4 separate regions of the Homo sapiens genome follow, and regions 1, 2 and 3 are each linked to region 4. The links come from fine-mapping of genetic effects on gene expression. A gene starts in region 4. Each other region holds a variant in brackets. All regions are shown on one strand. Distances are between the middles of the regions.

Region 1 (8,104 bases), 160 kb before region 4:
AGAAACCAGGCCTGTGTTTCTTGCCCCATTAGAGGATCCCCTTCCATCCCACCCCACCCTAACCAGGCCAGGAATAAACAAAGAGGCCTGGAAGCCCAACCCACTCACCAAGTCCTGGTCAGGAGAGTCATACGGTGATTCCCACTTGATGACCACGGAGGTTTTGCCCGTATGAACCACATGCAGGTGACGGGGTGGAAGCCTGCTGTCCGGGATCATCTTCACTACAACGTAGTCAGAGGATGGCCCCTGGTAGGGTACCACTACACGGACCTGAAGCCCAAGCACACACGTAGGAAAAAAAATACATCATGGCCTTATGCAATCTTTATTAAAGTATTTTTTCAACAAAATAATGACAACAATTAAAATTCAGTTAGTACAAAAAACCATAAAATATAAAATAATTTCCCACCTACCCCAAATCATTTTCCAAGAGGTACCACTGGTAAGAGTTTTTGTGCTTCCTTCCAGAAATCCCCTATGCATATATAAGGAAGGATATGTATGTACGTGTATCCTTACACATATATGCACGTGTATATGAAGCCTATCTTCCTCAAATATTTTTTATACAACTGAGAAAATGGCACACATATTATGCTCTTGGCTTCTTTTATATAATAATATAGCGTAGAGATTTTTCCATATCAGTACATTTAGAGTTGTCATACTTCTTATGAACGGCTGTCCTGCATTCCATTGCATGAATAAACCATGATATGTTTAACCAGTCCTCTCTTCATAGACATTTAAGTTGCTTCACATCTTTTGCTATCATAAGAATAATAACGTACCATGTATCTTTCTCCATATATCTTGGCACACACATAAAAGTATGTAGGCTAAATTCCTAGAAGTGGAACCTGATAAAAATTTTTGATTTATCTATACTTGTGATCATCTGCCAAGTTATCAGTCCTCCATAACGGAGCTGCAGTTGGTGAAAGTGGCCGTTCATTCTGTATTTCAAGCAAGAACCTGATGATGCTTATGAAGAAGAGGAAGTTGCCTCTCGTCACACACATCAATCCTGGAGTCCAGGTATGCAAGCTCCCCAGGTCCTGGGTTGAGACCAGAGCCCAGGACTTAAGACATCCCTTAAAAAACTGAAACGGTATGGGAAACTTACCAGAAACAAATACTGCTCATCCTTACTGACAATGACCGTCTTGTTGTGGAGTGAAGTAGTCAAGCTCTTCGGGTTGCGATAGAGGTCAAGAAAGGACGTGGCATAGAAAATACCATAAACCTGGTAAAAGCAGAGAATGGAAGAGGACATCAGCTCATGGGCCGATGATCTCATTTCCTTGAAATCCCCAATTTAAGACCCTGGAACTGCTTCAAAAGAGCTCACAGAGAAGTCTTCATTCAACATTTATTACATTTACAGCATTTACAGAGAAGGCACTTGGGCCAGGCACTGTATGTAGAGCTACAAAAATAAATATGATGTGGTCTCTGTCCTCAAAGCGCTCCTTCTGGAGGAGAGGCGGGCAGAGAAGAAAAACATACATAATTATAAATAACAAGTGGCAAACATAGAGTGTTAGATGCTACACCAGAAACCCACATGATGAGCCAGGGAACGGGGGGTTATTAAAGAGGGGGTGTCATTCTACCATTGGCAGCACAGACGTGGGCTCCAAGGGGATGTGCTGAGTGGGAAGGAAAGCCATGGGAGCTTGCACAGTGGATGCGAACACCCCAGGAAGTATGTGGAGGGAGGGAAGGAGAGCAGACACGGCTGGCTGTCCAACAGGTACCCATCCTCCCTTTCTTCCTCAGAACTCTGGTTCTGATTGAGAATTGCTGCCTGGAAAAAGTCTAAACTGCGAACCTCCCTAAGCTAGAAGAGGCTAGACAAAGAGCTTCCAGCCATTGAGATGCAGAAGTGTCGCAGGAAAAGCTTTAGGAGGGCTCATTACAACAGAGGGAGGAGCCCTTCTTCCTGCCCTCTGGTCGCCTGGAATACAGATCATGACTGCAGGCCCAGGAGGCCTCTTGTACCATGAGGTGAGCTTGAAGACACATGCCACAGGCTGGAGATGACAGGGCTCAGGTGCCCAATCAAATCGTGCTGCCACGACAGAAGCCCTGCACTGCTCAACTCTAAACTTGTTTTAATTACAAGAGGAAATAAACTGTTCGAAGCCACTGTTACTGTCACTTCCTCTGCTCTATGCATCCCTGCTTAGTCCTAACTGGTAAACGTTGGAAACTGAGGGAGTTTCAAGCAGGGAAGTGGGAATGGGATGAAGTTTACAGCAGAAAGTGGAAGCCGAGGGAGTTTATAACTGGAGGGTGGGAGCTGAGGAAGCTTTCTTTGTAAGGCACAATCAAAGAGCATTTTCTCCAAGAGTTATGTGCACATGTAAGACATGGGCTTGACGAGGACTGTAGGAGCTGCAGGATCCATGGGATGAGCAGGAACTGAGCGGGGATCCACAAAGGGATTTCCAAGTCCCAGGCAACAGGGTGACTTTCTCCAGCACTGCTCAGCAGCTGTGAGGACTAAGCTCTGATTTTTTAAATCTTGCCCAAATCCCTATCTAAGGGGTCTGGGGAGTCATGTCCTACAAACCATAAATTCTCATCAGATGGGTTTTATTTAATCCTATATATCGTGACTTACTTTCCAAGTTGACTCTGGCATAACATTATGAGACAAGGAAGAAAATCAAAATATTTTACCCTAAAACATGTTTCTTTGTCATATCTTGAAATGGCCCTGAAAAGCTGTCCTTTGTGGGGGAACCTTCGCATCTGTAAAGAATCTCTATTAACATAGCTAGATCTTTTTCTTCCAGGCCCTCCCAATCCTAAAGACATTAGCTAAAAGTCTTGCACCTTTTAAAGATCTGGATAGGAAACATCTGTCATCTATTTCCCCTAAAGGCAGCCACTAAAAGACGTCAAAAGAACCTTGGTCTCCACAATCTTTTATCTTAACCTGAACATCTCCTTTCCGTCAATCTCAGGTCTTTAGACAAACTCAACCAATTGACAACCAGAAAATGTTTAAATTTCCCTATAGCCTGGAAACCCCTGCTTCCCCATGCCCACTTTGAGTTGTCCTGCCTTTCTGGACCAAACCAGTGTATTTCCTAAATGTATTTGATGGATGTCTCATGCCTCCCTAAAATGTATAAAACCAAGCTGCATCCCGGCCACCTTGGGCACATGTTCTCAGGACCTCCTGAGGGCTGTGTCACGGGCCATGGTCACTCCTATTTGGCTCAGAATAAATCTTTTCATATATTTTACAGAGTTTGACTCTTTTTGTTGACAGATGAGAAAGGACAGACAGATGGGAGAACACAGACAGAGAAACAGGAAGGGAAGCCCCGAAGGGGGTGATCGCCTGGGAGGATGTAGGAAAGAGAAGCGCTGAGGGACTCAAAGGGGTCCCAAAGCAAATGCAGGTGGAGCTGCAAAGCATGAGATGGGAGTAGGCCAAGTCGGGGCTTAGAGTACAGAGGGAGGATGACATCACCGAGGACAAGGCTGGTGACCGCCAGGGATGGGGTGTCTCTGGAGAGGAAAGGGGTCCACAGAGCCACGGGAGCCAAGGGATGAGAGGTTCCCCACATGCACAGTGACAATGGCACTTCTCACAGTAGACAGGAAAATCATGAGAGCTGCCAGGGTCCTCAATGAACTAAAGAGGGGCAGAAGCAGAGAGCTTCCTACAGGTGATCTCATTTGCGCTCTCACCTCTGAAAGCCACCTTTAGTGTGACCAGTGCATGAGCTGAGATGAGGTGCAGGAAGCCTCCTCCAACTTCATGCACAATTGGAGACCCTAAATCAAGTCAGGCTTCAGTGTTCTGTGCAATTGCCCTACTCTGGAGAGATAGTTGGGGGTGATGAGGCGGTCATGTGCTGCCAGGTATATAAATGGAAAGAAAGGGTTCTTTATGAGTAGACTCAACTTCCAGGTAAAAGAGAGC[T/C]CCGGGGATAGGTCAGGGCTTCTCATCACTGTCCCTGCCTCAGCGTCAGGTGCTGGGACACACAAAAGAGCAGAGGCTGTTAAATTAGCCAGACCTGAGCTGAAACTCAGTCTACTGCTTGTGAGAGCTTTAACTCTGGCAAGTTACTTCGCCTCACTGAGCCTTAGTTTCCTTGCTGGCAAAATGGGAATATTTACCCACAGAACCAATGAAAGGAATAAGGGGGAACAGGGGTTTATCGGATTTTATATTGTTCCTGGCACTTACTGGCTGCTCAGTAAATCTTACTTCTTCCTTCTTCTTCACTGATTTTACAGACAGCTACTTGCAAACTTTGGTTATTTCCCTATGACTCAGCCCTGTGACAAATGCACGCTGAAGATATCCTCAGAAGACCAGACCTAGGCTAGTTCCTCCGCTCATCACTAAGGATTTACTAATTCCTTATTATAAATTTACTTCTGTATGCTTTTCCATTGAGAAAATCCAGAAAACAATCCTTCCCTTCAAGGAACTTACAAACTAGTTAGGAAGGTAAGAGTAACAGACAAAAATTATCAAATAGGGTAAAGCTGTATTCAATGAAATATCATGCTATATGGAACCAACTATAAATATATTAGGAGTTCATAGGGAGAGAGATCAACTATAGAAGGGAGGATTTTCTTGCATAGCAAGAGGAGGGAAGGACACCAAGGAGGAGAAAGGGCATAAGCCAAGTACAGAGGCAAGAGGGGGACGAATGTGCCAAGAGCCTTGGGACGGTTGATCTAAAAGCAAAGGGGACACACTGGGGAGGAGTGGAAAGTAAAACAGTAGACTCAAAAAGGAGCACAGATCTGATCATAGTGAATCATAATGCACGTATGAAAACAAAGGAAAAAGAAAGGCCTATATCCAAGAGCAGCAGGGGCACCGGAACATTTGCAAAAGAGAGAAAAGCCCTGGAGTTGTGTGGTGGCGTAGCATTAGGGGACAGTCCACACTCACTTTGTGATGGTCATTCTGGCTGACTCACCACATTCCGGGGGCCGGTCCAGGTACATTCCACTGCAGTCTGGTTGATGGCTTTGGCCTTGAGGCTAGGTGCAGGTGGGCGAACCCCTCTGGTCATAACATGCTCAAATGCCAGAGGGCTATCCCCCAAGTCAGTCTTGGCCCAGGCAGAAATCTCATAGGATGTATGAGCTGTCAGATTGCCAACTGTGAAAACAGGAAAAGGAGATTCCAGGAGGAAGTTGGGGGTGTTAGTCAAGAACGTGTCTTGGTACATGCACTTTTTTAAAAAAAAATAGTAATCTCTTGACTTAAATGAGTCCCATGTGCTGTAGGACTGTCATTAGATGACAAATTCATTCAACGTTTATGTACTGATGATGACGGTACGTAACACACTGCACAAGCACTGGGTAATTTCTTTAAAGCTGCCCATCCGCGGATAGGAGTTGGTACAACGCTCCTGGAAGCCATTTGGCCTTGTATAACAAGAACCTTGGAAATCATACCCTTCAATCCAGTTATCCCATGAAGTCAGAGAAAGACTCAAAAGTGTGTTTAACAAGGATCCCCATCACAGTGTTACAGCAGGAAAAAACTGAATGTAATTTGATTGTCTAGTAACAGGATAATAATTAAATAATGTGCATTCCATCAACTACTGTGCAGGCACTAAAGGTTGTTTCAAAAATATTTGATGACACTGGAAAATTCTCACAATTTTATGTGAAGTGAAAAGGGCAGGATACAATACTACCTATGGCATTATTCTGATTTTAGAAAAAAGATATAAAGAGATCAATCCATGGAAAAATATATTAGAAGATATCTGAAATGTAAAAGTGAAATTATAGGCAATTTTAATTTTCATTACACTCTTTTTGTTCTCTCAATTTTCTGAAACAAATATGTATCCCCTTTCTGATCAGAGGAAATGCTATTAAAACTAAGAAAAAGAAAAGTGAGAAGGGGGAGGTTACGCTAACAAGATAGCCTTTGGAATCAGAAGGACTGGGGTTTAAGGCCTGACTCTATACTTTGTGGTTGTATAACCTTGGGTAAAGTATTTAAACTCTCTATTTCCTTGTTTGTAAGATGGAGAAAAAAATAACAGCACTTACAGCAGCTGCTGGCTGGCAGGGAGAAAAAAAGAAAATGCTTAGGAAGTGCTTGGCATAATGCCTAGCATCGCACTAGCCCTAATAGATTTCAAACAACAGCTAGTTAAGGCTTCTGCTCCTGACTCTGCCAGTTTCTACTGGGGCAACACTAAGGCAATGAGATCATAGGCTGTGGAGTTAGAAAGATGTGGGTTCCAATCCTGGCTCTGCCACCGTCTGAGCGTATGACTTATTCTTTCAACTTCAGTTTTGCCTCTGTAAAGCGGGCATATCTCACGGAATTATACTTGGGGTTATGTAAATAATATGCGTAGAATGCCTGTGTAAATGCCTGTACATGGTAGGTGCTCAATGTGCAAAAGTCAAAATAACAGCCTCCTCGGGCACCTTGTAGACTTTCAGTTAAAAAAAAAAAGTAACAATAGAACATTTGTAGTCTCTACTTTATAAGGCTATGACAAGGACTCAATAAAAACATGACTGAAAGTGCTTCACAGCCTAGAAGGAGGAGACAGGAAGAAGCTCCCAAGTCATTCTCAACAGTTACAGGCAGCTTTCGCCACTTAGAAATAAATTAAAATCCATCCTTTAGCACGTGCTTAGATAGAGGAATTTTAGCTGAGACTTGCTGCTGGTACATACGTAACAGGGACTGGACCACTCCTCCCTTAGTTTGTTGTCCATTTCTCCAGTCAACATGTATTTACTGAACACCAGTTATGCATAAGGCCTTCTGCTGTCTCTCATTAGCAACGGGAGAGTGAACCAGACTAGAAAGGACAGACAGGTAACTGTCTATATCTAAGAACTCTTTCTTTTGGAAATCAAAACTCATCTGCAGAGAATTAGTCTTGCCTCTGTCCAATTTTCCTCCTTATGGCCCCCAACTTCCACTAAGGGTCATGAGGTTGGAGGAGGGCTCGAGGGGCCACTGAGTGAATCCCTCTGCCTAGAATCAGCAGCACACTTATAGGATCCTCAATGCACAAGAACCTGTCAACACAGAACAGCTTCCAGAGAATACCTCCCCTTCCCTGGCACCCCCAGTCAAGCTCTACAGCGGGAAAGCATTGGTCCAGCCTTACCCCTTCCTGCACACACACTGACCAGCACCAAAGTGTTACCTTTGTGTGACAATATGCTTCCTCGGAAGTTCAAAGTTCTCCTCTCTTGCTTGTGGGTGTCAAATGCCCAGAAAAGGTTCACCACATAGCCATTCACCTGCCGAGAACCAAGAAGCATGTTAGATGAACAGCTAGTCATGGGGCACACTAAATACAAAAGGCAGGATTAAAAATACACCTCTTTCCTGTTCTTTCCTTGGGTATCTCATTCTTACAGTGAACAGGTTGTTTTTTAAAAATTTTAAACAGGTTCTACTTGTGCTACCATTAGCTAATATTTAGTTGTACTCCACCTACTTCTAAAAACAAACGAGACCATATTTAATTTATAGATTCAATGAAACAAAAAAGTGAATGAAGAATAAAAGGACGAGAACCAATTAATAAAGGTAGAAAGAGGAAACACTGGAAAGATAATTAGGCCATGGAAATTAAGGATAAATCCTTGCAGTCAAGGCCAAGAAGACAATCCATACAAAACAGGCTGGTTAGATCTCATTGTCTAACTACAGAAAATACATCCACCCATCAGGAAAGACTACCTTTTCCAAGTCCTGAGCTCATAAAAAGATTTGATCTGAAGATCGTTAAATATGGGACAACGAACAAAAATATTTTCAAGATCAAAGACTACAAGACAAGAAGCATATAAGCCCACTTCTTTTTTCTTTCTTTTCTTTTTTTCTTTTTTTTGAGACAGAGTCTCACTCTGTTGCCCAGGCTGGACTGCAGTGGCATGATCTTGACTCACTGTAGCCTCTGCGTCCCAGGTTCAAGCGATTCTCCTGCCCCAGCCTCCAAGTAGCTGGGATTACAGGCATGCACCACCACACCTGGCTAATTTTTGTATTTTTAGTAGAGACGGGGTTTCACCATGTTGGCCAGGCTGGTCTCGAACTCCCGACCTCAGG
Region 2 (8,104 bases), 45 kb before region 4:
ACATGTCATGGGAGGGACCTGGTGGGAGGTAACTGAATCATGGGGGCGGGTTTTCCTGTGCTGTTCTCATGATAATGAATAAGTCTCACAAAATCTGATGGTTTTATAAAGGGCAGTTCCCCTGCACACACTCTCTTGCCTGCCGCCACGTAAGCCATGCCTTTGCTCCTCCTTCACCTTCCGCCTTGATTGTGAGGCCTCTCCAGCCATGTGGAACTGTGAGTCTATTAAACCTCTTTTTCTTTATAAATAACCCAGTGTCGGGCATTTCATCATAGCAGTATGAAAATGGACTAATAAAGTCACAAATTGTATGATTTCCATTACACAAATTGCCCAAAATTGAAAAAGCCATAAAGATACTAGGTTAGTGGTTACCAGCATCAGGGAGGAGAAGGAAGTAATGGTAATGGGTATGTGGTTTCTTTCTGAGGTGATAAAAATATTTGGAATTAGGTAATGATGATCATTGTATAACCTTATGAATAAACTAAAAACCACTAAATTGCACACTTAAAAAGGGTAAATTTTGCAGAATGTGAATTGTATCTCAACACAGTTGTAACAAATATTAATTTTAAATGTATTGTTATAGTTTTATTTTTAATCTGTAAATATCTGGGTTTTATTGATCACGTATGAGAGTTATAAGCATTGGGTGCTTATACATTTAAGTAACATAGTTAAAATAATTTATAAGTAGTTTGGTTTGGGTCAGTTATCCTATAATTCACAACACAGTTTTGTCAGCTGATTTCTCATCTAGAAGCCCACAACACCCTGTAGCAGTTACTAAACTGTTCTGTTACCTCTGATCAACATTAGAGAGCAAATTAGCTTAAGGTTGAAAATTGGTTTTCAATAGTGAAATTCGTGGTTGCTTAGTCAGAATCATGAAAATACACATGGACCCTCACTTGGGAGACTGGTGTGACATCAAAATACTTGAATTGGGCATAATATTCTAAAGATACCATCCTGTCATTAACAGGGCATAACAATTTAGAGAGGCCCATAACCTATACTTTTCTGGATAATGCCTGGGACCTGTCAAGACATTGCGATTCCAGTTACCTGATGCCAACTGAAGGGGTAACAGACAACTATCAGCATAGTCAGCAACTACAGGAAGTCAGACAACTATCTGTAAAGGTCCAGATAATAGATATTTTAGGCTTTTGGAGCCATATTGCCTCTGTATAGGTACCTATGCAACTCTACCACTGGGCATGAAAGCAACCTTAGACCACAAATAAGCAATGAGCATGGCTGTGTCCCAGTAAAACTTCATTTACAAAAACAGGTGGTGGGCCATAGTTTCCTAGCATCCACTCTAGAACACAGCGTCTGCAGCATGCAAGGCGTGGGTGGCTGCATCATCTGTAAGGTCACAGAAGAGACTTCAAGTCCACAGATCATGTCTTTGCTTACTGATACACATTTGTGCAAGAAATATCTGGGCCTGGCTTGCATGATAATCTTAATCTGGTAGTGAGGTTATGAGGTTGTGAGGTTGTAGGGGAGTAGCTAACCCTGACCCACCTCAAGCTTTTCAGCAATTACTGTTATCTACTGAAAGAGCCTAACAGTTGTATATTACCAAATTAACAAATCACAGAGGAACCTCATTGTTTCTTTAATGGCCCTATCATTTTGATGTACACTATGAAGACAAATAAGTGAACTTCATGTCAAAAAGCAAGGAATAAAAATTAAACAAGGCAACTTAAGGGCAAAAAATACAAAGCACATTATAAAGCCAGAGCGAGGCCAACAGGGTACCAGGAGGTTCTGAAGACCTGGACACCAGCTCCAGTCCAGAAGCCAGGGGGCTGAAACAGTAGCTTGCAAAGGACTGTAATCATTCATGGTGCTGGAAGGAAGCAAAAGAGTTAATCATGCAAAACCAGCTTTCTGTAGCTTTAAAATCAGTTCTTTGATTTTCCCAATTTGATTTGAATTCATTTAACACTAAAGCCAGCTGGAATTTCCCAAGCTCAGGCAGCCTTAGAGCTAGGCAGACCCCAGATAAAAAGTTACACTTGCAGGTTTCAACACTCTTACTGGGAGGGGATTATCTGACCGAGGCCAACTTTGTTTATCCTTGTCGTTTAGCAGTCTGATGTAATAAAAAGGAGGAAAGCACATATTTTGTGTGCTATCCACAGCCAGTTGTGTTTCTTTTCCCATCAATCCATCCCTTGAGAAATATTCCCTAGACAGTAGTACAACTCTGTCATTTGAAGCATCTGCCTGTAGAAGGCTCAGGGCAGAGTTTCTCAAACTGGTGATTGTTAGACAACCTTGGGATGATCTGGGGAAAAGTGCATTTGAGCCCTGCAATCTGCACTTGTAACAACTGTCCTTGCCTGATGCTGACGTGGGTACTCCTAAGACCACAATTTGGGAAACACCTCTCAGTGGTGGCCTAACTCATCTTACCTACATCCTCTCACTAATACCACTGACCCTGGAATCTGGTGGCTCATCCATGTGCAGAAGGAGGAGCCAGCTCATAACTACAATTTTGCCACCAACAGCATATAAATAAATAAGCCATACAGAGAGTTAAGAATTGCCTATAAAAGTACCAAAAATTTAATACGTCTCCCACCAAATTTCTAAAAATTGACTACTTTTTAAATTAGGTGGGCAAACATGGCATTCATTCAACTCTATTGCGCATCTGCTGCGTATCAAACATAGCGCAAGGCACTGGGTACTGTATCGGTGAGATCAAAACAAACATGACCCCTAATCTTACCACTGGCCAGGTTTAATTAAAAACTCACCACAGGCACTCTGTAAATCAGATACATCTGGAGAACAGACATAGCTGTTAGACTAGAATGGAGGGCACAGAAAGCTCCAGCTAGAATATAACTTTTTTTTTTTTTTGAGACAGAGTCTTGCTCTGTTGCTCAGATTGGAGTGCAATGGCATGATTTTGGCTCACTGCAACCTCCACCTCCCAAATTCAAGCAATTCTCCTGCCTCGGCCTTCCGAGTAGCTGGGATTACAAGCATGTGCCACCACACCAGACTAATTTTTGTATTTTTAGTAGAGACGGGGTTTCACCATGTTGACCAGGCTCGTCTCAAACTACTGACCTCAAGTGATCCACCCACCTCAGACTCCCAAAGTGCTGGGATTACAGGCATGAGCCACCATGCCCGGCCCAGCTGGGATATAACTTAAACTCTCGACCGTGACACCTAGAAATAACCCGGTTAAGAGAAATGCACAACAGCTATCCATCCTGCCCTGGTTCAAGCAAAAAGGAGGACAAACCAGGCAGTCAGTCAATGTGTTTTAGAGTTCAGAATTAAAATCACACAATAACTCCAGGCCCAAGGCATTAAGGCAGAAAAGGCCTATAAACCCTGGAGAACTGAAGACAAGGTTTTAGACCATACTGAAAACTCAAGACTGTCCAACTGATGTCACAAGGCACCAGTGCTTGGGCCTGATTTCTTATCTGTGTGTTCCCATCACCCCATCCCTGCCCAAAGCCATTCGAGGATGCTTATGTTTCTGGGCTGCTGTACATATTTGTGCATGTGTGTTTAAGAGAAAGATAAAGAAACAGTCAAGGCAGGAAGGCACTGAACCAATGTCTATGGGTCAATGCAAATGGCCTGACAAGAAAAACTGCCATAGGCTAATGGTTTTTCAGAACATTTTGCAAGGTATGTAACTGGAAATGCCTCTAGCCTTTAGCCACCCACATCTCTCTTCTCATTCTGTCCTTACTCCCTGCTTTTCCTGCTGGGGAGATCCTCTCTTGACCCTAAAATCCTACTAAGAAGGTTGACCTACTTCCACCTGGCCTGCTACCAATTATAGAAGTAAATGAGAATCTGAAGGAAAAGATTACGTCTGATTTCAGTCTCTAAGGTTAACAGTGAAAGACAACAGAGTAACCTCCCAGTTAGCAAAGGCCTTCAACAGACCCTGAGTCAACAAGGGAAGGGCACCATCAGGAAAGCAAGCTAGTAGCCTCCCAGAAATAAGAGCCCCACCTGCCCTTGACTGGGCCTGGTTTTTTCCTTTACAACCAGGGTGATAAAGACTGAACTCAATACAATTTCAAGACAAGTCCTGTTAAGTAATCAACTCTGGTTTTGAATGAGCAAGCCCACCATTTCGGCATCTGGCTCCAACACATCAAATCAAGGGGAAGATTTTCCCAAAGGCTGAGAGTTAAGCTACTTACTGACAGCTGGAAGCTTAATTACTGCTTTTCTTAGAGCATTAACTCCCACTAGCCAATGACTACACATCCTATTAGCCATGTAAATTGACATGTGTTGAAAAATCTCAAAGAAATCAGCATAAGTTTAAAGGAAATCAGGCAGTGGGATTAAAGGAAAGAAGCCACTGAGCCACCCTCCCCTCTCCATTCTTTGTTCTTTTCATTGGGATTTCAAAGAAATACGTCTTTGTCAAGGATGCTTGGCTACCAGGAAACAACCAAATTCCTAGAGCCTAGAGCCACTTTGAGTGTTTGTCCTAGGCCTCTCCACTCCTCTGACTTCCTAGCACCTGCCAAGCCCTTTCGGAATGTTCGTCAATGTTGTCAATGTTGAGATCCCTTCAGTCAATCTGTCCCAAGCACATCCTTCCAATTCCTGTGTATGCAAACTCACCTGTTTAATCACAGAATGCCAAACTTCACAAAGGAAACTCAAAAGTAGTTTATTCTTTAGTACATTCAACTTACCACCACCTTTGTAGCAAACATGTACTTGTCCCGAAGCTGAAAATCTCTCACTTCCTCAAGGATCACTTCCTGGTTTTCCCGGGACTGGAAGAAATCTGTACTTCGGAAGACAGTGGAGTAGCCAGAGGGTT[C/T]ATGTCGTTCAATGTAGATGGTATTTGGTTTGTCATAGGGATCAATTCCCCTGGCAGAAAAAAAAAAAAAGGTTGTTATCATTTGCACATTTAATTACTAGAGGCATGGAAGTTTTGCAATGGGATAATCAACTAGAGTTTAGGCCTACCATGGTGTGACCCACAGATCATACTCTCTGTGCCTCAAACATATCCCTTTGGTTACTCCTTGACTCAGGATAGAGGGGACAAATTGCCATTTGCAAGGTGTTTTATGTTGTTTTCAAAGCATCCTGGGTTTAGCTCAAGGCAACCCTGCCCTGCTTAGGAAGAGCAAAAAGTAGTAGTACAAGATAAAATGTTTCAAAATTAATAAGCAAGGGACTGCTTGAAGCTATAAGCAAGTTTCTGGTCTAAAGTTATGAATCTCAGAGGAATGAAGGAGAGTTTTCCCAAGGTGCTACATCCTCTGAAGAACATTACTGGAGAAACCACACCATGAACCTCTGAGCCTGATCCTTCCAAGTGACGCTGCCCTGTCTCTGCCCTGTCCCCTACCAATGTCATGGATCTAGGCAATCTGGAGCTGCCTGTGCATTTCGTCTCCCATGAGGCTCTTCCACAAACTCTTTCTCAAACATACTGATCTCCTTGATGTCCTTCAGAAAGGGAGGGCACCTTTCTCCCACTGTGCTTTTGCAAACACCACACTCTCGTGAGGAGATGCCCTCTGCACGCACTCTGATCCCTCCATCCAATTCCTACTCTCCTCTGTCATCAAGTTCAAGTCTTCATCTTCCAGGAAGCCTTCCTCAGTGCTGTCCTCTCTTCTCCCAACACTAGCAATAACATCCCTCTGCAGCATCCAATTCCAAGCCTTTTACATGAGTTTGAACTCCAAACAAAGGTATAAAACCCCTTTAGTTGGGTGATTTTTTAGAATCAGTCTTATTCCTTTATGCAGTAATGCCTCTTAGACACTGTATTTTATTGTTCACCATTATGTATTTGTCTGAGCTTCCTAGACACAGTATAGATGCCTCGGAAGGCCATGTCTTAGATTTCATTTTACCCTATAGTATTCCTAGCTGAAGAGATACTTTCTGCATTGGATCTGTGGGGCAATTCAAGAAGCTAATCCAAAATGAAAACATAGAATGACCAGGCCAAACTACCTTGGAGAAGAACTTCTGAGCCAGTGATCCCCCAAGAATCCCCACACAGCAGCTCAGAGGACAACTTATCTGCTCCAGGTCTCCTAACATTCTCAAGAACACCAAGGCCATGGGAACCATTCAGCAAATGGAAAAAATAAATGGTAAAGTCGGGAAGATAGTCTTGTAGTGAGAATACAGAGTGATGACTCAAGGAAAAGCAGAAGGCCTCAGTTAGGTAACTGCCCTTATACAATCCCATATGCATGATGGCTCTCAGAATAATGAAGGTAATCGTGTCAAATTCCTTCAGAGATATACTGTCAAGAGCATATTCCCCCCACCCCTCCCAAAAAGGAAAATAAGAAACAGAAAAACAAGAACCTCTTTTGCCAGATGTAGTGGGTCACACCTGTAATCCCAACACTTTGGGAGGCTGAGGCCAGGGTAGGGAGGGGGACCATTTGAACCCAAGAGTTCAAGACCAGCCTGGGCAACATAGTGAGACTCCACCTCTACAAAAAATAAATTTAAAAAAATTAGCCAGGTATGCTGGCGTACACCTGTAGCCCCAGCTACTCAGGAGGCTGAGGTGGGTGGATTGAAGCCTGGAAGTTTGAGGCTGGGTGAGCCATGATTGTGCCACTGCACTCCAGCCTGGGCAACAGAGCAATACCCTGTCTTGAAAAAACAAAGAAAAAAGAGCTTCTTTTTACAATGGGAGCAAGACTTGAGTTTTGCCCTACAATCTGGATTCTTAGGGCAACGGAGAAACCAGCAGCTTTGGTCCTAGTGTGGGAGAACACTATTCTTCATTATCAGATCCTCTGTGTGCATGTGTGGGCGGGTGGTGGCATGTTCTCTTCTTTTCCACAATTAGAAGTACTGATTAAAGTACTTCCTCTAGCCAGAGGATATGCAAATTAAAATGAGGCTGCTTGGTATTTTTAAAACGGCAGAGAGGAAGGAACCTTTATTGAGCTATTTTGAGACCCAGCTCACCTCTATTATTCCTTCCTAGCCAAAAGCAGCAGCCAACACCTAGAGATAGAAAGAACTGTGACTTTCATCCCAATTTTCTTCCGTAATCCATATTTGGACCTCCCATTTCTGCAAGCTGCTCCACCTACAAGTTCTCATACTTTGCAATCACTTAGACTTCCAATGTCTTACGCTCACTGACACCTACTTTCTATTGTCTTTGTCCTCATTGAGAAATTCCAATCCTTGCTCTATCTCTGAGCAGTCACCAGCCTCACCTGGCCTCACCTGAAATCCCTCAATGATGCTCCACAGGGTATCTTTGAGTCCCCTCAGCCCCCTCCAGGTCTTCCACTGTTCTGTCTTGCCAATCTCAAGCTCCGGACCATGTAAATTTTTAGCTTTCCCACTCCTGCTGCTCCCAACTCGCCAAGCATTGTTGAACAAATGTATATCATTATTCTGAGAGACTAGATTACGCTTTCACTTATTATGGGGAAACCTAGGGGGAGAAATCCCACAAATAGCCTAAAATCCCCTAACCGACATGTCATTAGCTTCAATGAGATAAACCAGTCCTTTCTCCCAGGATATCTGTATATCTACACAGAGGCAGAAGGTACAATATGATTTTAGAACTTAAAATTTCTAAATTGTATGTTCCCTTATCTAGTAATTCTGCTGGTTTGCCCTCTTAATTTATAGTTTCTTAAGCAGATAAAAGAACAATTTTTCCCCTTAAAATTCAAATAAAGCAGAAGAAAGTTCTAATGGTTCTCCTTGAGCAGAGGGTGTCCTTGGATGAGACTGTGGTTATAATTTCACTAAGATCCCACAACTTTTGCTCAAGGAAAATAACAAAAGGGTCAGAAACAGCTACCCTCTGTGGAAACATAAACAGAATCTATGGGTGTCTGATGATGGTCAGCTGTAAGGCTCCTCAACATACCAGCTCCATCTTTACCTCTATTACTAAGGAAGCAATACCAACTAAAAGACATTTCACTTTACATGGAGAACTAAAAGAAACAAAGGCAGTATCTACATCTTCTGGGACCATTACACTTAATGAGGACTAAAATTACAAGTAAAAGTCTAAAAACAAATGAAAAACTAGGAGATAGAAATATAAATA
Region 3 (8,104 bases), 120 kb before region 4:
GATCACCAATGATCCACAGAGACCATGAACGAAGAGACTTTTACCAGGGACAAAAGGTCATTTAACAGCTTCCAGTCAGTGTGCTGCAAATGGGTTACAGGTGGGCTGAGATTCTGAGACCCTCAGACCCTTAGAGCTGCTTGCCTCTTGACAACAGCATCCTTGTCCATTCATCCCAGTGCTCTCCACATATATTATTTTCTATGCTTGCTATGATGGGAAGAAGGTTAGGAAGCAGTGATAGAGGAGGCCAGGAAGTAGAACTTTCAAGAAACAGAGGACTCCTACAGACACAGCCTGTGGTTTGAGAAAAGGAGTGCCGAGAGGTCTGCATGAGCTGATCACCGTGAGATGCTCAGTCAGAGAGAGTAAAATCAGTGCTGAGCTCCCAAAACGGAGGAAACATAACTCGGGACTTTCTGTGGGCAGAGCTCCAGGGACACGGGTGGATGCGCTGTCTCTAGAAGGGTGGGGGCCTGGTAAGAACCAACCAGCAGAGCTTGACCAAGAAGGGGAAGGAGGCTGCCCTGGCAATAGCCTTCAAAGCTCCTGGGGAGATCATGAAGACAGAATGCTATAGGCTGAGCTTATAAACAATAGCAATTTATTTCTCTCGGTTCTGGAGGCTAGGAAAATTCAAATGTTTATACTTCATATGTTGAAACTTCAAATTTGTATGTTGAAACTTAATCACCAATGTGATATTATTAAGAGATGGGACCCCTGTGAGGTAATTAAGTCATGGGGGCAGAGCCCTCATGAATAGGATTAGTGTCCTTAAGAAAGAGGTGGGAGGGAGCTGTTCACTCCTTCTGCCACGCTTGCGTACAGATAGAAGCATTTCCCTGCAGTCCTTCCAGAAGCAGAGGTGCCATCTGACGCTGCAGTGAAGGTACCATCTATGAGGAACAGGCCCTCACTAGACAATAAGTCTGCTGGCACCTCAGTCTTGGACCTCCCAGTCTCCAGTACTGTGAGAAACAAAATACTATTGTTTATAAATTACCTACACTAAGTATTTTGTTATCACAGCCCAAATAGACTGTGGCATAGAACTTTCACATGGAGTTTACAGAGCGTCAGAAAACAGGAGCAGCCAAGCGTGGGGCCCAAGGCAGCCGTCTCAGTCATTCTCGCCAAGAGGCTTGTTGATGGCAAAGCTAGTAAATCAGATATTTTTGAGGAAGAGTGTGGAAACTTACGAAGAGGACCTGCATCAGAGGAAGGGGCTAACCGGGACCCTGGGATGAATTCAGGACAAACTAGTAAGAATGAGCCATGAACAGAGGATCAGGGGGCTGAAACTGCTTCACAGTCAAACATGTACCCAGTACGTGAGCTCAATGATACCAGAAAGAGGGAACCACGTGAAGTTTCCTTCTTACTAGGGCAAAACTAGCTACACATTTCAACCTTCTAAGAGTGCTGGGAAGGAAATGGCAGGGATGAAGGGGAAATAGTTGCACATTCCAAGGACATGTTTTCAGGCACTTGAAGAAGGAAAACTGGGAATTTTTTAAAAACCTTCCAAGAGCCAGGCTAGGGGTATTTTCTGTGTGGAAATGGCCTAGGCTCTGCTCTGCTGGTTAACTTGCATTGAGATGATTTACAAGCTGCCCTTGCTCCCCTTATTTCAGCTGCTGTGAGTCAAACCACCTGCTCATAATCAAGCAGGCTGTGTCCATGTGCGTAAGCACAGCGTGGCTGGACCTGCCCCCCGTGGACAGGGAGAGAGGGCACAGTAGGGCCCCGCCAACTCATCACCACGTCTGGGTCAGCGTCTGACCTCCACTCTCACTTCCCTCTCATGCCTCAATCTGGCACACCATGCTGATTGCATAATGTCTCCTTCGGAGGTCAGCAACTATGAGTCTGGGACCAGGGACTGTTAACTAAGATGGGTCTCATGAAACTGACAAGGAGGTACTGTGCAACAGAAATAGTGGAGGATTAGAAAATGGGAGACATGGATTCCAGTTCCCCATTCTGACACAAACTAATTGTGTCACCTTGAATAAGCCCCCTGACCTCTACAGACCTCAGTCACTTTAGAAAGTAGAAATTAAAAGGATTGGACCAGAGAATCTCTATCATTCCTTGGAATTGTAACCCACTGTTTTTCTAAATATAAAAATGTCCATTCAGAAAACAGATGCTCACTCAATGCCTATACCATCTGCTAACTTCTAATAATAACAGAGTTGAATGAATTAAATTGGTTAAAAAAAAAAGAACAGTTCACAGAGGTGCAGATTTGTGTCTTCAGCAGGCTAATCTCACACCCACTGAGACATGTGGGCCAAGCCTGTAGAGCTGTTAATAACCCCCTGAATTCATTCAGAAATTTACTTCCTTACCATCACCTTTCATCCTTATAGCATCTCTCCAAGGCAAAGCAGGGTCCATTTCCCCATTTTTCAGACTAGAAAACAAAGGCTAATCTAAGAGTAAGTGACAGGAGCTGAGTCCAGGCTCCATCTTTTCTGACCATGAATCATGAGGATTCAGTTCTGCTGGAGACACTTGATCCAGAGTTAATGGGAATCTAGGGTCCCATCCAGAGTTAATGGGAATCTAGGGTCCCAGTTCGCAAGTGTCTCCAGCGAACTGAATCCTCGTGAAAAGCAGCAAACAAACTCTTTAAGAATGGACAGAGAAATGACTCAACCCCACCATGTGGATGGAGAAAGCCATTCAGCTAGAATATCATAAATCCTGAGACGGCTATCAGAAAACCAGTACATACCAGTACAGCCCTGTGAGGGAGCACAATGACCCCCCTCTCCAGAGCAGGGTTTCAGGATGTGATGTCCCCTTACCACAATGACTTTCATCACTGTTGTCTCCACAGTCATCCTCAAGGTCACATTTATAGGACAGTGGGATACAAGTCCCAGACTCCTGGCAACGAAACTGGGTGTCCAGGTCACAGATGGTGGTAGCTAAAATGGGATAGAAAGACAACATATTCCTTAGGTACAATTGATTTCCCACAAATGTAAACATCCTACTGGAAAACCAATTAAAAAATAGAAGAAAGCAGGTATTAATTGTAGCAACAGAAATTAAACCTAGACTTACAGAAGACATAAATTACATGAGAGCTTGAAATTTACAACCAAGAGAGATAAGGGCATATCTTTCTGTGGACAGCTTCCAGATCGGAACAGGACGGGGAAAAGTGAGAAACTGTCATCTGTTGGCGAGAGAGAGTGACAGGCTAGGTGACCTCCTAAGATCCCTTCAGACGCGAAAAGTGTCTTCCTAAATAAGTGACAGAAATACCTTTATCTATGAAACTACGATTAGAGAAGCTCAATTTCACACAAGAAGTTAGCACTTCATTGTACAGATGGTAAAGGCAGCATGGAGGTAGAATTCTACAGTAGGAACATAGGCTCTGTCTGCAGTCAGTCAAGACTGGGTACCAAATCGTGGCTCTACCTCTTCCTGGGGAAATTAATTTTAATCTCCCTACGGCTGTTTTCTCAACAGTAAAACTGGGTAAGATAATGTGTCCTAGTGCTTGAGATCACAGTCAGAGAGACTAGATTTGTTTTTCTGTTTTTTGAGATGGAGTCTCGCTCTGTTGCCCAGGCTGGAGTGCAGTGGCGCAATCTCGGCTCACTGCAACCTCCGCCTCCCAGGTTCAAG[C/T]GATTTCTCCAGCCTCAGCCTCCTGAGTAGCTGGGATTACAGGCACCCACCACCAGCCCCAGTTAATTTTTGTATTTTTAGTACAGATGGGGTTTTGCCATGTTGGCCAGGATGGTCTTGAACTCCTGGCCTCAAGTGATCTGCCTGCCTCAGCCTCCCAAAGTGCTAGGATTACAGGCATGAGCCACCACGCCCAGCCAGAAAGACTAGATTTGAATTGAGTCTGCAACCTACAACTTACTTAACCTGCCTTTACTTGGTAGCATTATTATGAAGATAAACCAGGGAACAAGTTTGGAACCAGAGCCTATTAAATAGGATGTAAATATAATGGGCTCTAAACAAATGTCACTTCTCTTCCTCATCATTCCTCATGTCCTTCTGGCATTAGAATGGATACAGAATTAGATTTTTCTTCCTCTCCTAAGTAGATATTTCCTGTGCTTAAGCACAATCCCTGGCACCCCGTGAAACACCCTCCAGGAAAGGCGAGGGGAAGGCAGGCTGCTCTCAGGAGAGTGAAAGGCTGACCCAGGAGGTAAAATGTGGCAGAACAGAATGCTGGCACGGGGGAGGGGTTGTCGTGCACGAAATGCCAAATAGCAATGCTGCCGTTAGACATCCTGGCAGCTCTTATTTGAGGCTCCATTTCTTCTCTGTAATTGAGCTCGTGGTGGGAGGCAGGGGATGAATGCAAAATGACAAGACTGCAGGGATTCGCGTCAAAACCCTGAGTGCCTGACAGTCACCCAGCTAGAGGAATCTGTGTAAGAGGGAGGGAAACCCACTGACAACACCCTCCTGCATCCCGGTGTCCCCCCTCCTCCACTGCTCCCTGGCAGCTGGCAGGGTGCCTCACTTAACTCCCCACATGGCAGTACTCAGTCACTGCGGTCCAGCTCCTGCAGCCCTGCTTAGAAACAGGGAACCTCTCTCCTCCACACGCAACCTCCTTGATGAGGGAGACACACATGCAGGCACAGATAAGCCCCTCTCTCTTGACTCCCAGTCTCTGAGTTTTAAATCCTTCTGGTTCCTCCTCTCCACGCCTCAGCTCCATCTGACATGTGTAGACCTGAGCCAGGTGAAACAGGGAGACGACGGAGCAGAAAGTAGGTCTCGGGGTCTCTGGAAAGTGAATCCCAGCTGACATTCACGCCAAGCTGGGAGGAGGGCAGGGCCAGCTCCATCCTTCATGCACAACTGTGCAGTCTGCAACAGAGCTCAGGGGCTGGGTGGGAGGAAGCCATTGGAGGCAGCAGGTGCCTCCCAAAAGATGCAGGTCTTCATTCCTCTCAAAACTCGGAGCCAATACAAGATTCAGCTTGTCCATTTAGTAGAAACCAAGCCCAAGGGCACAAGGAGGAATGCTCTGCCACCTGTGTCCCTCACTCTTGGATATGAGGTCATCTGGTTTGTATCTCCCTGCTTCCACTGTGCCTAATTATGTCTGGGCAATTTCCTTGTAACTTGTTAATTCTAAGAAGCATCTTCTATCCCACCCAGATATGTAATAAACTCCTTTCCATTATCTGCTTCAATGCTGTTAATAAGCATTAATGTTTTTAAAGAGCTTTGGCTATTCCCCCACAAATATCACACCTTCCTGCAACTCTGATAAAGGAGGCTTTATAGGCCTTATTTTTTGCAGAAAAGACACAGAGAGGCTAGTGCTTTCCCAAATCTGCCATTCAGCAAATAAGCTCTACTCCCTCGGTGTGAAAGGCACCCTCTGAATCCAAGGGAAAACGATTAAGGAAAGGCTTTGTAAATAACCCTCTATCAGCCAAAAGGGGGAGTCTATAGGATTGCAGGGCCCAGATGTGTTTAATGAGCTGGATATTTCACAAGTTGCTTTCTGGGTGAAGTGGCAGGGGAGCCGGGCACAGGCCCCACGGATGACTGGCTAAATGAGTATCTAGAGCTTCCCATTAATCTGTTCTTACAGTACAAATGGGTAAATGAGCCCCTGGGTTGCCAAAGGTAAAATATATAAAAGAGAAGCCTCTGACTTGGTTCCTGCTTCTGGTCTCTCTCCATCAAACGCATTCTGCCCACTACTTATCCTTCCAAAGATGAACTTTCATCACATGACATCAGTGGTTCCCAACTGCTTCTCCGATAAAGTCCACAAAGCCCTTGCTGTCCTGGGCGCTGCCCACTCATCTAACTTCACCTTGGCCCCTGTGCCCATGCCCATTCTCCATAACTCAAACCAGTTTCCTGGCCATGCCAGCTTCCCCACATGCTGCTCCCTTGCCTGTGAATTGATTCCCTCCACCTCTGCTTGGTTCACCCCAGACACTCTCCAGAGCTCTTTGCTAGGGCCTGCCCAAGTTTGCTTTGGGTGCCCATCCTACATGCATATGACACTTCCGCATCGCAGTGCCCGTCACTCTACTGTAACTGCCTATTTTTCTGACTCCTACTTCAGACTGTGAACTCCGTTTCTGCCTTGATCGGCAATATATATGCAGGCCCAGCACAGAGCCTGGAACACAGGGTGTATAGCAACTGCTTGTTGAGTGAGTGCATGACTGACAAAAGGGCAAATCATCTCCTTATAAGATAATGTCGAAGCTATTAAAAATTAAGTGAAGAAAAGATAGTGAAAATTCATGGTTAATAAACTATCTGTTATTTGTGGTTGTTTGGTTTTAACTTCTGCTAACCACAGTCTTATACTTTAGAAGTCAGATCTTAAAAATTATACAGCCTAAAGATGACACTTACATGGCATGTACACCAATGGCCCCACACTGTAGGCCAAGCTATGCATTACTAACCAATGAAAACAATCTCTCTTGAGCCTGGTAGGTAGCCAACATCAACCAACTGGAGTAAATACTCATTTCCCATCCCTAAAAAGGCTGAATATTGAATTTCCAAATCAAAGAATATCACCTGTTTACTCGCCCCAAGTCACCAGCTTTATTACAGAGCCACAGCCAAGATTAGAGCCCAGATTGCCAAATCAATTCAGTTTCAGCCATGTGACGTTTATTTATAAATCTCTTGTAACGAGTGGTACTTCTGGGGTGGTTAAAAAAATATTATGTATATAATATTAATCCTATATATCTAATATCTACCTGTGTATGGAAATATGTTTTCTCTGTCATCTAAGCCCCATCAACTTAGATGGGCATCACCAATCATGGGTGGCCCTCGCCCTAGACCTTAGGCCCTCAGCCTGGGAAGAGCCAACCAGGCTTCTGAGTAATGGTAAGTGCTTAACGTCCAATCCAGAAGACTCACGGCAGTTTCTCTCATCGCTCATGTCTCCACAGTCGTTGTCAAAGTCACACCACCAAATGCTGTTGATACAGTTCCCGTTGCTGCAGCGATACTGGTTGCGAAGACAGGTGTTCTCTACCCATCAGAGTGCGGCAGGGGAGGAAATGAAACCAATATTATTCTTACTGCTGGACCACAGGTCTTTCTCTTTTGAGTTTCCCTCCCTTTAGTAACTATCGGGGGAAATTCAGCCAGATATCGGGTGAAATTCACCCCCGATATTTCACATAGGTTCTTTTCTATTTTCCCTAAGTGTCGGCCGGTCTGAGAAATAAAGGGACAGCGTAAAAAAAGAGAGAAATTTTAAAGCTGGGTGTCTGGGGAGACATCACATGTCGGCAGGTTCCGTGATGCCCCCTGAGCCGTAAAACCACCAAGTTTTTATTAGTGATTTCAAAAGGGGAGGGAGTGTACGAATAAGGTGTGGGTCACAGAGATCATGTGCTTCACAAGGTAATAGAATATCACAAGGCAAATGGAGGCAGGGCAAGATCACAGGACCACAGGACGGGGCGAAATTAAAATTGCTAATGAAGTTTTGGGCACGCATTGTCACTGATAACATCTTATCAGGAGACAGAGTTTGAGAGCAGACAACCAGTCTGACCAAAATTTATTAGGCAGGAATTTCCTCATCCTAATAAGCCTAGGAGCACTACAGGAGACTGGGGTTTATTTCATCCCTACAGCTTCGACCATAAAAGATGGCCGCCCCTCGAAGCGGCCATTTTAGAAGCCTACCCTCAGGGACGCATTCTCTTTCTCAGGGATGTTCCTTGCTGGGAAAAAGAATTCAGCGATATTTCTCCCATTTCCTTTTGAAAGAAGAGAAATGTGGCTCTGTTCCGCCCGGCTCACCGGCAGTCAGAGTTTAAGGTTATCTGTCTTGTTCCCTGAACATTGCTGTTATCCTGTTCTTTTTTCAAGGTGCCCAGATTTCATATTGTTCAAACACACATGCTCTACAATTTGTGCAGTTAATGCAATCATCACAGGGTCCTGAGGCGACATACATCCTCCTCAGCTTACGAAGATGACGGGATTAAGAGATTAAAGTAAAGACAGGCATAGGAAATCACAAGGGTATTGATTGGGGAAGTGATAAGTGTCCGTGAAATCTTCACAATTTATGTTCAGAGACTGCAGTAAAGAC
Region 4 (8,104 bases):
ACAGAGCTCCCTAAGAAAAGACGCCAAGTGGAACCAGGAAGAGCTTTTCAAGGTCACGTCCCTTATTGAGCCAACCCAAGGCCCCGAGCAACTCTTCAGCTACATAAAAGCCAACCTGAAGCAGCACATTCTTTGCCTTCTCATCTTATTCTGGAAGCACACAGGTCAAACATCCTAACTTCAGAATCAACCAGCCAATTCTTTCCCAAGCAAGTGTATCATGGAAGAATCTACTCAAAAGAGATCTAAAGCTGAACGGTATTCCACCCCCAAAGGAGGCCTTTTGTCCCAGGGCCTTGTGCTGTAATAGACACTTTATTTTCAGTCTCAAATCAGGACACTGAATACTCCCTGGCTTCTAAAATGTAGGAATTATGAAGAGAGAGCTTGTTGGAAGGAAAATAAACCTGTAAATCCTGTTAGGCTTTGTGCTTTATTCCAAAGGATTTTTCCCCAAAACAATACCATTAGCATAAACCAGAATGATAGCCCTAAAAGGGAGGATTCTGTAAAATAGAATCCAAGCTCTTCATTGAAAATAACTCCCATATAGCACAGGCAAATCAGGGCTCCACTATCTGTAGGCCATGCCGCTTGCATCCTCACTACCGAATGAGCCATCTCATTTTCACTATCCATGTGTGGGTTCACTGTATTCCTCCTTACAAATACATTTTATATAATGTGAATGTGCTTCCTACCCTCTGGGCCTCTCTTCTTCCAGGTGTGTGGCTGGTCCACAAATACTCATTAAGGGCCTCCCAAGTGCCAGGGAAACACAAGAGAACTTGATCCATGCCCTCAAGGAGCAAACAGGAAGATGAGACAGTTGAGCAATTCTAACACAAGGCAGTAAGTGCTGCCTCCAAGCTCAGAAGAAACTCTTCCCACCATAGCCTGAGAATACCAAGAGGTATTCCTTGGATGTTAAAGAATGGAATAAGAGCTTCCCAGGCAAGGACAAGAGTTGGGGAAGATCATTTCAGGCAGAGGAAAAAGCAGGTATGATGGCGCAGACAGACAGAGCTTATGAGAAATCAGGAGGAAATTCAGTGTGGCATGAATTAGGGAATCCCTCTTCTTGGACCTGGCCTTTAAGAAGGGGCTCAACTTCTAAACTTTGCCTTTTTTTTTTTTTTTTTTAGATGGAGTCTCACTCTGTCCCCCAGGCTGGAGTGCAATGGCGCGATCTCGGCTCACTGCAACCTCCGCCTCCGGGGTTCAAGCGATTCTCCTGCCTCAGCCTCTTGAGTAGCCAGGACTACAGGCATCTGCCACCACGCCCAGTGAATTTTTGTAGTTTTAGTAGAGACGGGGTTTCCCCATGTGGACCAGGCTGGTTTCGAACTCCTGACCTCAAGTGATCCACCCGCCTCGGCCTCCCACAGTGCTGGGATTACAGGCGTGAGCCTTGAACATGGGCAGAAAAGTCCTGATATCTGCCAGCAAATTATTTTCACCCCTACAATCACATTTCAGTATCATAAATGTGCCTTTAAGTAATCATGGCAGAAGCCGGTCTCCCCACCTTAGAGAAACTGAGGAGGAAAATGGTCAAAATAACCAAGCCTAGTTTACCCAAGACATTAGCGAAGCAGAGGAAAAAGGACCGACATTGACTCCAGCACAGGGCTCTTTCTCAGATGCAAGTATTCCCCTAGAAAGCCTTCCCTTCTCTTCTCCCTGAAGGTGGTGGCCTTAACATCGCCTCTAGGCCTGCTTCCTTCAGGCAGCTTCTGCTTCCAGCCCTAACCTGTGCTGCCAGTGTCCTCTTAACCTCACTCAAAGGTCAGAGGGCAAGAAGCTGGACAGTGTCTGAGCCCACCACCCCTTATCTCTCCATCTCCCATGCGCTGCATGTCACACAGCCCGTTATCACACCATTGTAGAGTTGTGGCTGGTTTCTTGTGACCATGTTTCCTGGTTCCCATCCTGGTACATTGACATGCCTGTATCTGCATCTGCTTGCTCTCCTCCTTAAATTGTAAATTTCCTAAAAGCAGGAATGAAATTTTATTCCCCAGCTCACTGCACCTCCATAGAACCACACTCAAGTCAAGCAGTACTGTTGGAAAACATCACCATTCCTTAGGTTTAAACGTTGAAGGGGAAAGTCGTGATTACAAAGTGGAACTTGGCTTAAGGCTAAAAGTAGGACCATATAATTTATTGTCACATCTTGACACTTTTGAGAGTGAAGGGGGTGCTATTCATAACCACCAGAGACAACTTAGAAACCAGGTCTGCCCCAGGGAAACACAGAGGCAATGGTCATCCTTGCTAGAAAGATCATTCCAAATAGATGTTAGTTACTCCAGAGTTCCAAGAGGGGCACCTCAAACCCCTTCAGTCACCAACCTGTGCTTGCATTCTGAAGGGTCTGCACCAGATAGAACTTGTGGCAGAAAGCCCAGTACAGGGAAGTTCTTCCTTTTATCTGACTCAAATCCTTACAGATTCAAATTAATTCCACTTCTTATTAACCTCAGAGCAAGAGGCAACAATGGCATAGGAAGGCAGCCACAGAGAAGAAAAATCTCACCCTTGTACCCTCACCCTCCGGTTAGGAATTCCTCATTATGAGTTTGACTGCTAGTTCTCCATCCTTCAGCTGAACCAAACTCAATCTGGCTGGCCCAGAAACTCAAAAGCCCAGGGTTTGGGAGTCACTCCCAGTGAGAACAGAGTTCATGTCCAACCTGCCCCACATCCCCTGGAGCTTTTCATAAACCAAACCCAAGAAAGAAATGGCACATGTACACATATTTTTGAAACCAGAAAACTTTTTCCTCAACCTAAACTATAGCTTCAGGGGACCTGAGCACTGGGAGGGATTGTCTCCCACCAGCCCCCAACTCCCAGTTCCCAGAATGCTGATTCAAGAGCACAGCAGAGCTGGGCTGACTGCGGAGGCCCAATGAAGAAGTGGGCCACTCCTCCTCCTTCTCCCACCCTCCATCAGCCCCATGCTGGTGTCGCTGTTAAGAGCAAGGACCTTGATGACTTCTTTTTGTTCATACACATATTTGTCATATGGGGTGGGGACAGGGGGACAAGGATCTGGGCCCAAGAGGAACTGAGCATGCAGGTTCCTGCAGCCTGTGGCCACCATTAGTTACATGCCCTGGGGCACACATTCTTGCCCAGGGACCAATAGTGGAGGGAAATCCAACGCTCCCACCCAGTCACCACCATCCTTTCCCCCTTTATACCAGATCTATTTTATTTTAGAAAGGAGGTATTTCAGCAGCATTGCATAAAGACAGGGTGACTGCAGTCAAGCAAAGGTCACTGAGACAATGCAGACAAAAACTAGAGAGCAGGCCACCTTCCCGGTATGACCTTGGACTAGTCACTTCACCATTCCACGCTTCAGTTTCTTCACCAACAAAATGACACAATAGGGTGATATGTTTACAAGGTTCGTCCTGGATCCAAGGGTTGAACATTTAACTCTGTATTTCCTGAAGAAATGGCTAAAGTGAAATTAGTGAGAAAAGGCAGAACTCAGGGTAATCTTTTATTAATAATTTCTACTTCAAAAGGAACAATTTGACTCTAGAAAACAAGTGTATTTACCCCCTCCTCTGGTCCTACTTTTTCTCCCCCACCGACCTTATACTTTTGCTGATGTCAATCTTAACTGCAGGACTGGGAGTCTCATGAGGCAATAACACGGTCAAATTAATTTTGCCAGTGCTGATCCTAACCTACAAACTCCATCTGCAATTCCTCGCAGTAAGTCTGACCATAAAAGTGAAATTCACGTTACTTATGATCTAATAAACCTATTGCCTGGGTAGAAATAAATCACTTATAGAATAATAATGCCCACCAAATTTCCTGCAGTCCTTTCAAATCTCCAAGTGCCATGAGGGGTATTCCTCTCCAAAATAAAGTTATCTTGACGGGGGTGGGAGAGTCAGCATCTTGAAGGGTGGGGAAGAAGGAATGGAGAGCATCTCACACGCTCGCCAAAAATTAAAAATTAAAAATTCAGCCTTTACACACGCACACACATACACACACCTCTTGTCTGACTGTACAGAGATAGTCGACAAGCTTTCAGGTTTGCCCACTTTTATTGTGCTAATAATGCTAAGTGTGGAAACCCCCACCTCGTGCTGTTCTGTGTAAGTGTACCGCAACTGCAGGGTGCTCGCCTCCACTGCCAACTGATGATACACTAAAGAAAGCCCGTTTTTTATCCAGATGTAAAATGAAGCTGCACCCCTCCTATACCTGCCGGAAACTACATCTCTCTGCACACACCCTGGGGTAATACGCACTGCACCCGGCGAGTTACCTGGAATACGTTTACTAAATCGACAGGAAGAAGGAAAGATCAATGCGATTCAAGTGCTGACGGTTGTACTCGTGAAGGAAAAAAACAAATGCAAGCCGGGAAGTCCCCAGTGGTGCCTGCACCTAGGAGGCGACTGCAACGGATGGATGCGGGGGTGAGGAAGTGCAGGGAGAGGAAAAAACTGGAGGGAGGCGGGTTGCAAAACTGCTCACCTGTCCGTACACCTTGATGGGCTCGGGCTGCAGGGCAGCGCTCCGTTTCCTCCGGAGCGGCTTCTCGTCCGCGCGGCTCGCCCCCCTGGCATCCCCGCGCGCCCACAGCCGCAGCTCGCGCGGGTCGCCCTGCACCACGAGGAAGCCCCGGTCCTGGGGCAAGGGCGCGCTGCCGCCGTGCAGCCTCTGCGTCCAGACTTCGCAGAGAGCTCCGGGCGGCAGCAGTGCGACCAGGGTGAATAGGAACGGGAGTCGCGACTCCCTCCTGCTGCTCCGTGTCGCCATGTTCGGGCGAACGCTACTGCAGGTGGCGCCGCCGCCAGGAGAGAATGTGCAGCGCGAGGCCAGGAGAGCCGCTGGGCCGGGACCGCGCGCGCCGCTCCCGGGGCTCCAGGCCGCCCGCGCCGCTCCGGGCCGCCCCGCTGCGCCCGCCGCCGCTGCCGCCAGGTCCCGCTCGGTTCGGCGCGGCGCCGTCACGTGTGAGGCTCGCAGCGCGTCCCTTTCGCGCACTTTCTGCGCTCGGCGGCCTCGGCGGCGACTCCGGCCCCTCCCTGGCGCGGGGATGGGGAAGTTAAGGCAGCGAGCGCCGGTGGGGGTGCGTCCCTTCCCTGGCGGGCACACCTCCTTGTTCTCCCTGCAGGAATGAAGAGTTGCATGGGGCTCGCTCGTTTTCTCTGGAGTTAGTTGCGTCCTATACAGGGTCGTGTCGAGGTCGTCCTAAACCGTGGCCACTTTCCTGAGTGCACAGCCCGCAGTAGCGCCACAAGACCACCTCCCCCCGGCCCCGGCCTCATCCCCACCTCCAGGGAAGAGTCCAGAGCCACAGAATTAGCTCCTAGAACGCAACCAACAAGAGTCCAGATGAACCCGCTCTATTGGGAAACTCACAGTTTTTCATCTACTCTGGGCACCACAACGTATTTGCAGGGGCCACAGCAAAAACTACCCTTGATCAAGCTACGTGCCCCAGCCTGAAGCACAGCAAATAAACATCCTGCACAGAGGCAGTAAAAACAAGGGTACATCTGACAAAGAATGCACCACACCTGGACAATTATTACACAGCTATACAGGGTGTGCTTGCACGCACGCATGAATACCTGTGCGTGGCACAGGGCCCCAGCGGCGGCTTGCTTATGATCCCTCCAAGGTGACCAAGCACTGAGCCACCCTGCCTCAGCAGTAAAATAGACATATTTACCAGTCCCTTCAACCCACAGCCAGGAGCTAGGCAAACACCCACAGAGGAGGGAGGACACACTTTAACCCTACATTCAGCTTGACGAGCCAAACTCTCTGAACCACAGGAGATAAAACTTCTGCCATGGAACTGCTAAGGTACGCCCAAGGAAAATATTTTTTTTGCAGGTTAGTGGGAGCAGCCAAAGTCTATGTACTACTGCAACCTTTCCTATTTCATTTTATGTTTCACTGCCCTCTGAACTCAGATCCTGGTTTTTGATAAGAATAAAGACACAGCAAGCAGGGCTGAAAGGGAGACTACCTTTATAGTTGCATACAAGCTGCTGTTCAGGGGAAGGAAGGGATGGTCAGTTCAATTTTCTAAAAACATTCCTCATCTCCGACAAGCCACGGTAGCCCGATTCCTACCCCGGCCCACTCTAGTACTTTTCAGGTAGCTTAGCAAAGCCCCCTCCTCTACCTAGGACTACCACTGACAACCTGCCAGAGTCAGGCCAGCTTGCCTCATCTCCCTGAAGCCAGTATTCAACCACCCTACCCTACCCCATGCCAGACTTGCTGGGGACCTCTGCCTCAGGTTCTGCACTCTCCCACCTCCTCCCACACCCGATTTTCTCCCCAAGTCAGATGATGTCTTTCTGTCCATCTCAACATAATTACAGAACCATCCAGTTCTCCCCACCAAGCAAATCATGCATTCTCTATGTTAACCACCCTGCTTTGTTCATTATACATTGTATACAGGTATCAAAATACCACACTTTCCCCAGTGTGGTATTATTGGGGTGCCTTCATCCTGCACCCCAACTTTGATGTTATTTCAGAGGGATTGAGGAAGTGGTAGCTTGTTTACAACCCAGAGCTGGTTTTGAAGCTGAGAGGAACGCCTTGCTCATATTGTGCAATTCAGCTCTAACTCATATATATAACATATATATTTATTATATACTTATATATGTCAATTAAAAATAATAATTCAAACAATCATGCATCCTCCAAGAAAGCCACTGAACCACTGTCACCTCCCACCCCTCATCTAGATCAGCTCTGTCTGGTCAGCATCACCTTACCAGGAATGGACAACCCCATGGTCTCTCAGGACCAGCAGCAAAGATATCTCTACTCCCATTTAGCCCTCAAAGGAAAATGAAGGGAATATGGCTAAAGTGAGAACATCCTGTAGATGATTCAATTATTGGGGTTTTTCCAACATATATTTAATGAGAACCTTCTCTGCAAGAGCAAGTGTCAGAGTCCCAGCAGAAAACAGAGACAGGAGTCTCCTAAGTGTGGATTTGAAGATGGGCATCTGTTTGCCCACACAAACTGCTGGCTTAAGGTTCAGATGGCCCCTTGCACAGAAGGACTAGTAGGGCAGGGCCAGCTACTTGCTCATTTTGATGTTGATTTGCAACTTGAATGCTAGAGAATTGGTAAGAATATTCAAACATGGTTAATTAACTCCTTGCAAGCCCTCCTATCTAATCATTATCTACATTCCAAACCATTCTCAGGTAGATAATCAGCAACCCCCCAAGACTGTGCCTGCTGCACAACTACAGAACGCAGTGGAAGACACGCTGAATTCTGAGTCAGAAGGTTGACTTTCTAGCTGTGGGGACTTGGCCAAACCTCCTCAGAGCTTCAGTTTTCTCATCTGTAAAATAGAGATCTTAATCCCTACCAATCTCACAGGACTGCTGAGAGTATCAGATGAGGTAAGTATATAAAATAGCTGTGCAAATTTGTGTGAAGGCCTCCAGAGAGAAATAGTGCATGCAGGTGGCATTAGAAACATAGATTCTAGTCCTGGCTTTGCAACCAAATTATTATGTAATTTTTTGTCTTGATCATCTTGTCTCTTACGATTTCTTCATAAGTTAAATGAAAAGACACCTTTCAGCCCTGACCACTCCCAAACCTTCAGGACCCCCACTGGGTTGTGAGATAGGAGCAGCCACAGGCAAGGTCACCCAGGACAGGAGTTAGAGCTGAATCGTGCAATATGAGTGAGGTGTTCCTCTCAGCTTCAAAACCAGCTCTGGGTTGTAAACAAGCTACCACTTCCTCTATCCCTCTGAAGTAACATCAAAGTTGGGGTGCAGGATGGAAGACAGTACCATATCCCCCTCTGTCCCATCTTGCATGGCCTTGCTCGGATGCTGCCCAGCATCATGACGAAAATCAACATGCACGGAAATGTAATGATAGACTCACAGCTGTGTATAAAACAGTCTTAAGCCTGTTGTCAGACTTTAAACTGCCCTCCTCTGTCCTACTGCCCATCTTAGGCCACTGGAGATGGAGGTAGAGGACAAACACACAGAGGTCACAGTGTCCTACATTTTTATCCAGGTGGAGTCATGTTTAAAATAGCAGCAAG

Direction of the effects. Positions count from the first base shown, and alleles are read on the strand shown. Sizes are in standard deviations (SD) of each study's normalised expression. Not every link is listed here.
As copies of T replace C in region 2, the expression in monocytes after Pam3CSK4 of the gene that starts at base 4,821 in region 4 goes up (large effect, 1.3 SD a copy in Quach 2016).
In carriers of allele C in region 3, the expression in monocytes after R848 of the gene that starts at base 4,821 in region 4 tends to be lower than with T alone (large effect, 1.8 SD a copy in Quach 2016).

Evidence for each region. PIP is the estimated chance that this variant, and not a neighbour inherited with it, causes the effect.
Region 1: its variant is the best candidate, but not a certain one, in a credible set for the expression of SORL1 in whole blood (TOPMed, PIP 0.57).
Region 2: its variant is the best candidate, but not a certain one, in a credible set for the expression of SORL1 in monocytes after Pam3CSK4 (Quach 2016, PIP 0.66).
Region 3: its variant is the best candidate, but not a certain one, in a credible set for the expression of SORL1 in monocytes after R848 (Quach 2016, PIP 0.64).

Annotation. Positions count from the first base shown.
Region 1 is chr11:121,611,922-121,620,025 of GRCh38, reverse strand. It overlaps SORL1 (sortilin related receptor 1), which reads right to left. Exons shown (of 48, transcript NM_003105.6): 40 at 7,194-7,290; 41 at 4,971-5,155; 42 at 1,133-1,252; 43 at 109-273. Among named protein-coding and RNA genes, the nearest start is that of SORL1-AS1, 160 kb to the right of the region's middle. RefSeq lists a silencer at 5,212-5,506. The variant T/C (reference allele first, on the strand shown) is at 3,953.
Region 2 is chr11:121,493,670-121,501,773 of GRCh38, reverse strand. SORL1 (sortilin related receptor 1) reads right to left here. Exons shown (of 48, transcript NM_003105.6): 6 at 4,725-4,905. Among named protein-coding and RNA genes, the nearest start is that of SORL1-AS1, 45 kb to the right of the region's middle. RefSeq lists an enhancer at 3,135-3,635. The variant C/T (reference allele first, on the strand shown) is at 4,856.
Region 3 is chr11:121,569,079-121,577,182 of GRCh38, reverse strand. It overlaps SORL1 (sortilin related receptor 1), which reads right to left. Exons shown (of 48, transcript NM_003105.6): 23 at 6,913-7,026; 24 at 2,820-2,942. Among named protein-coding and RNA genes, the nearest start is that of SORL1-AS1, 120 kb to the right of the region's middle. RefSeq lists a silencer at 309-388 and enhancers at 5,438-5,937, 5,938-6,439, 6,900-7,069, 7,180-7,229. The variant C/T (reference allele first, on the strand shown) is at 3,655.
Region 4 is chr11:121,449,031-121,457,134 of GRCh38, reverse strand. It overlaps SORL1 (sortilin related receptor 1), which reads right to left and starts at 4,821. Exons shown (of 48, transcript NM_003105.6): 1 at 4,519-4,821. The coding sequence starts at 4,803. It overlaps SORL1-AS1 (SORL1 antisense RNA 1), which reads left to right and starts at 4,168. Exons shown (of 3, transcript NR_183636.1): 1 at 4,168-4,460; 2 at 7,236-7,439. RefSeq lists silencers at 2,811-2,860, 4,705-4,754, 4,885-4,934 and enhancers at 3,985-4,034, 4,055-4,124, 4,165-4,214, 4,225-4,414, 5,805-5,864.